Regions from separate parts of the Homo sapiens genome. Here region 2 is linked to region 1. The links come from fine-mapping of genetic effects on gene expression. A gene starts in region 1. The other region holds a variant in brackets. All regions are shown on one strand. Distances are between the middles of the regions. Region 1 holds the start of TEX35 (testis expressed 35). Region 2 has its middle 60 kb from the start of C1orf220.

Region 1 (2,912 bases):
TTTAGGTCCTGTGTCACTCCTGCTTTGGTAAACCGCCCTTCTTGTTTAACTGCTTTGTAATCAAATGTCTGTGGATTGAAACAGGAACACAGACCTTTGGGAATTGCAGATGGGCGGTGGAAGTGCAGAGGCAGAAGAGATCCCCCTGTGTTTCTGTTCCTCCCTTAGGGCTAAGGCAAGAGGAAAGCTGGTGGCCCCACCTGTGCAGAAGGTTCCTCTATCCTCCTCCCTCTTTCAGCTCATCTTGTTCCACTCCCCTGCTGGCCCACGGGGCCTCAGCTCCTTTTGTCCCTTGAACAGCCAGGCTCATTCCCACCTTGGGCCTCAGTGCATGCTGCCTCCTCTGCCTAGAAGGCTCTTACTCTGCCTTTGCAAAGCCAGAGTCTTGTCCTTCAGCTCTCAGCTCAAAGGAAGGCCTTTCCCTACCACCCACTCCACGGCAGCCACTCAGACATGTCTCCCTGTCTTGATTCCCAGCAGAGCAGGTAACACTGCTGAATGAGTCCTTGTTCGTTTATGTATCTGATTGGTTACAGTGTGAAGTTCTATGAGAGCAAGAACTCTCAGTGCATCCCCCAGCACCTGGGACAAATCTTGGCCACTAGGATCAGCAAATGACCCCTGACTCCTGGTCACTTCCCCATGGATCTCAGGCCTGGCTGCCTGCATGGCCTCAAAAGGGCTTCTTACTTTGGTCGGCTCTGGCTTCAATTCCAGGCAAACTGCCTTGTAGTTCTTGCTCTGCAAAAAGAGGAGACTGAGATTCAGGCTGGCAGACATCAGGATTGGGGAGGAGAACATCTGGCCCTTGCACGGGAACCCTGCCCCCTGCCCCCCACAACCATGCAACCCTGCCTGTCCAACTGGCTTGAGCTCAGGCTCACAGACCCCGCAGCACCCGGATCCGATTCCTAACAAATCACATCTTGTCGTGCTGTCCTCTTCCTATGGGCGTGTGTCTGCCTATTTGGCAGGCAGCCCTCTCCCTGCTGGAGGCGCCAGCGTGGAGAAAGCACTTTAAGATAACTAGAAGCAAGCCCCGGAAGTGTTGTTTCCAGAGCAAGGGCTTTGGCCATAGGCAGATTTGCACTATAGTCTCAGCTGACCTCTCTACTATCTCTGTTATTTTGGGTGAGTTGCTTAGCCTCTCTGAGCCCCCATTTCCTCATCTATAAAATCGACGTGATGATTATATTTATCTAATAAGGTTATTCTGAGCCTTAGCCCTGCTGGTTAGATGTGGGCCTGGCAGGCCTGGCATGGGCCGTGGAACCATGAGTGGTCTTGGAGTAGGGAGTGCTCCCTTGGCAGTGCTCCTCATCCCCAGAGGGAGGCAGCAGAGGCCTCTTTCCTTCCCACCCCCAAGGCTAGGGATTAATCCCACACCCCTTCCAGACTGAGAGGCTGCTTTATGCTCAGTACAGAGAAAGAAAAACCAGAGATTCATGCGAGCATTCTCTGTATCCCTTGCCCCGACACCATCTCCATTCAGTAGGAGCTCAGAGAGGACCCACACTGTCCAGCAATGTCTCTCTTTTACCAGATGTGTTTTCTTCAATTCTGCCCTCTTGGCCGACATGATGGAGGAGGCCAGGGTGTTCTTCAACTCCCCACAACAGCCCCTGGGACCAGGCCACTGTCCTAGGCAACTTACAGGTCAAGGTGAGGGCAGGGTGACCACCCCTTTGTGTACGGAACAGCTGAGGTCACAATGCCAGGACCCACATGGTGGTCCAGAGCGTCACCACAGCTTCAGGCCTGGGGGGCTTCGGCCACTGAGATGAGGGGTTCAGGCCAGGTTTCAGAGTCCCACCAGGCCTCCCTCTTGCAACAGAAGGAAAGTCCACACTGAGGAGGATCATGGCCTGCTACGGTCGAAGTGCAAGGCACGCGTCAGAAGCAGTGGCTCCTTCTGCAGCAGGACTCACCTACTGACTCAGAAGGACGTCCTCCAGGGACAGCCAGCTCCTCCTCTGAGCGCACAGCCCATGTCCTCTGCTGTGCGCTCCTCGCGCGAACCGACCCCACCTCGGACCGGAAGCCACCTTGGGCTGGAGGATGCCATGAAGTCTCTCTGGTTCAACGTGCATGCACCGTCTCACTTAACCTGGGTTACTCTGTATGAGGTGGGGTAGCCAGTCTCAGCAGGATGGTTTCTGATGCCTCTGACCTCACACTGCCCCTGTCCCACAACCACCCCCAGACCCCTGCCCACCTAAAAATTCTCTTTTCCTAGTTCTTCTATCATCCGGGAAGAGGGTTGGGACAAGAAGCTAAAGATAAGAAGCTTTTCGGGCAAATGAAGAATACTAAAGAAAAGGCCATTCTGCGGGTAGCCATAGTTTGTGCTAAAGTAGACAGTCAGAGGAACATGGCACCCCATGGGATAAAAAATCACTGGGGATCTGGGTTGGTGAAATTGATTTCTCTTTTCCTCTTATCACTGGTCATTCACTTCCTTCTTCCCTCTCATTTCAACTGCTAGTTGCACAGAAAAGGCCAACATGGACATCTGAGGACAGACAGCACAGGAGTACAGGAACTAATGCAAATTGCATGTGAATGACATCCCCATGCAGGCCACTACTGACCACACTTACCCTCCCATTTCACACACCTGCTTGGGACTATCCTTCCTGGAGGCCACTGGAACTTCTGGAGCCACCTGCAGCACTTCTGATGCATTTCCTAGGTGGTGATTTCCCAGCCCTGACACTGGTGACAGCTGTGGGTCTTACTCCACCATAGCCAGAGGAGAATGTGTCTGCCACTGCATCAGCGGAAGGAGAGGGAGTTGGGGGTGGTCACCAGCTTCCCAGGCTTCACTTTCCCCACTTATAAATGAGGGGCTGGAACTTTTCAGTTTCCTTGGACCTTTTAATTCAGCCCTCTCAGATCTGATGGCCTCGTGG
Region 2 (2,912 bases), 90 kb before region 1:
CTCCGTCTGGAAAAAAAAAAAAAAAAAGAAAGAGTCTCTTTTGTAATCTTGGTTGTGTTTTCTAGTGAGTTCTTGGATGCATTTAGGAGGTGCTACCATAACTAGGAGACCAAGAGGGCAGCAATTCACTCATGAGGGAGGGCAGAGAGAGTCCCAGGGAGGAGGGAAAACTGTGGGTGGAGCTGAGTGCTAGAGGCAAGAACTCAAAGAGAAAGCGGGGACAGATGAGATTGATGGTGCCATACAACCCTCCTTTCAAAGCTGAGTATTTAACATTGTTGAAAAATCAGCATTCATCCCTTTTATTTTATAACTGGTAAAGACCTTTATAATCCTTCAGTGGCCGAGAGGACCTACTGGGCCAGTCTGCTCTGTGACTCTCCCTCATATCTAATGAAATGGGCAAGGCACTCCCAGAGGCAGGCCCTGGGCCCTTGGGTCAGGGATCTACCCCTGCTTTTGAACTTCTTTTGGCCTCCTTCAGTGCTCTGCCCCTTATAGCCGGGCTTCAGGGTATAGTCCATGTCCATGTGGTTGCTTATACCTCAAAGCTACTTCTGGATAGCCTGAGCCAATCTCGTGCTACTCAAGAAGTAAAGGAGAAGAATTTCCAACTATATACCTGGCTTTGTGAATAGTCTATGGGAGCTACTTATTGGGAGCCTCCACAGAAAAACCTGTTTCCCACTGTTACATATGCTCACTTTTCATCCATTCAGATGCAGAGGCTAAAATGTAAAACCTAATATAAATTCAAAAAGGAGGTACATAAGCATTTCTGTATCTATCACTTGCAATGCTCTTTTTACCTGGACAAATCAAGAGCGAACCTGTTCTTATTTGAGGTCACAGGAACGGCACGTCTTTTGTGACATTTCAGGCTCAGCTTACGGAGAGTTTCTTAGTGGTGAACCAGGATGTTTTGGTGATAACTTGCAAAAGGGATGAGTGAAGTAACTACAATGAAGACTGATGATCTAGATTCAGGATTCCATTCCCTTCTTGTTCCTATATGGTTGAACATTGGGAGACACTCCCAGGATCTCCATTTGTTTCTCCATAACTTTAAAAGCAACCAAAATTTTTAACTAGCTCTATGCACCATGCTAAATGCTTTATATAGATATATGTGTGGAATTTAGTCCTCAAAACAATTTTGTGAGATAGGTGTGGGTAACCCCATTTTACAGATGAGGACTCTTTGAGTCCCTGAGAGGTTAAGTAACTTGCCCGAAGTCTGAGTGCTGGTGAGTGGTGGATCTAAGATTCTAAACCAGCTCATCTGATGCCAGGTCCACATACTTTATGCATTTTACCTTCTGGGAAAGAACTAATGCCTCTTTTCGTAAGGTTTGAGAGAACAAATAAGAAAGTACATATAAAAAGCTTTGAGAGTTGGGAATCAAGGTATCTGTAAGCCTTAGATTCTTAAGTATGGTGAAAAGAAAATTGAAAGGGATCAGTTAAAATCTCACAAGATCAAAATGTATTGCTCAGGGATTCTCAAAATTAGGAATTGTAAGTAGAAACATGGATCTCAGCCTTTTTATCTATAGGTAAGAGGCTGAAAAGGCTCAGTTTTGCTGCAGATTCCAAATTGATGAATATGTGTGATGGCTTTCCAAGTGAGAAGAGCTCTCTGAGTCTTGAAAAAATGGTTTATGACCACAACTTATAGGAGGACTATTAGTGAAGGAAATATGGACTTCCAACTGTT[T/G]AAAACAGATTTTAAGAAAGAAACCATGACTGTTTTACAAAAGTCTTGTGTAATGGACAGAGATAGCCATGTTAGTTTCCATTTTCTGCAGAAAGGGGGCATCTCATTTAATTCAAATCAACCCAACAGTCCTCGGGGTTTGGAGACCTCTGTCATTCTCCAGATTTAGCCAGGCCAAAGTATAACATATACATGCCTTAGATGTCTTACAAAAGTCACGTCACTCCAGAGAAAATGTGAATACCTCACAGAAGCTCTGGGGACAGTCCACTGACTTCAATTATTTTGGAAAGAAAGTGAAAGCTCAGGAGTGGCCTTTGAGTTGTGACACCCCCCCTTGCATTGCAGGGACTGGCCTCAAATCAATCTAGGCTCTCTGGATAGGCTGGCTTCAGAGCATTTGGTTCTGAAGTGATCTAAACAAAGACATATTTTTTATGGCTATTCTAAAAAGATAGCTGTTGCTGGGCATGGTGGCTCATGCCTGTAATCCCAGCATTTTGGGAGGCTGAGGCGGGCAGATCACCTGAGGTCAGGAGTTCAAGACCAGCCTGGCCAACATGGTGAAACCCAGTCTCTACTAAAAATACAAAAATTAACCGGGTGTGGTGGTGGGTGCCTGTAATCCCAGCTACGCAGGAGGCTGAGGCAAGAGAATTGCTTGGACCCGGAAGGCAGAGGTTGCAGTGAGCTGAGATCGTGCCCCTGCACTTGAGCCTGGGCGACAAAGCAAGACTCCGTCTCAAAATAAATAGGTAGATAAACAGATAGCTAGCTAGCTATCTGGTCTACCCTGTCCTCTGATGTTAGATGCCACAGAAATAGAGAAAATGCAATGTCTTCTTTTCACAGTCTAACTCTGTTGGATAACATGATTTTCCTATTTGACTGTGTTTTTCATGTTGTTAACTCCATATGTAGAATATGTCAGAGCCATGAAGGTGTTTGGCTGAGAATCTTGGAGGCTGGGGTTGTAAACTGAATGTGTAGCCTCCTTCGATGGGAGGAGTATTCACAGAATCTGAGTGCTGAGTGTGGGAGATAATTTGAAGTAGGCAGCGTCTAAAATAGTTCCTGACAACCCAGTGCAATGACTCACACTTTGGGAGGCTGAGGCAGGAGTTTGACACCAGCCTCAGCAACATCATCAGACCCCGTCTAGACAAAATAAAATAAAATAAATTAGCCTTTAGTG

The links. PIP is the estimated chance that this variant, and not a neighbour inherited with it, causes the effect.
Region 2: its variant is fine-mapped to the expression of TEX35 in whole blood (TOPMed, PIP 0.93).

The regions. Positions count from the first base shown.
Region 1 is chr1:178,511,856-178,514,767 of GRCh38, reverse strand. TEX35 (testis expressed 35) reads right to left here and starts at 1,659. Exons shown (of 9, transcript NM_032126.5): 1 at 1,541-1,659; 2 at 691-741; 3 at 1-68. The coding sequence starts at 1,579. It overlaps LOC101928866 (a long non-coding RNA gene), which reads left to right and starts at 1,718. Exons shown (of 6, transcript XR_001738307.2): 1 at 1,718-2,126; 2 at 2,486-2,692.
Region 2 is chr1:178,601,375-178,604,286 of GRCh38, reverse strand. No RefSeq gene overlaps it. Among named protein-coding and RNA genes, the nearest start is that of C1orf220, 60 kb to the right of the region's middle. The variant T/G (reference allele first, on the strand shown) is at 1,718.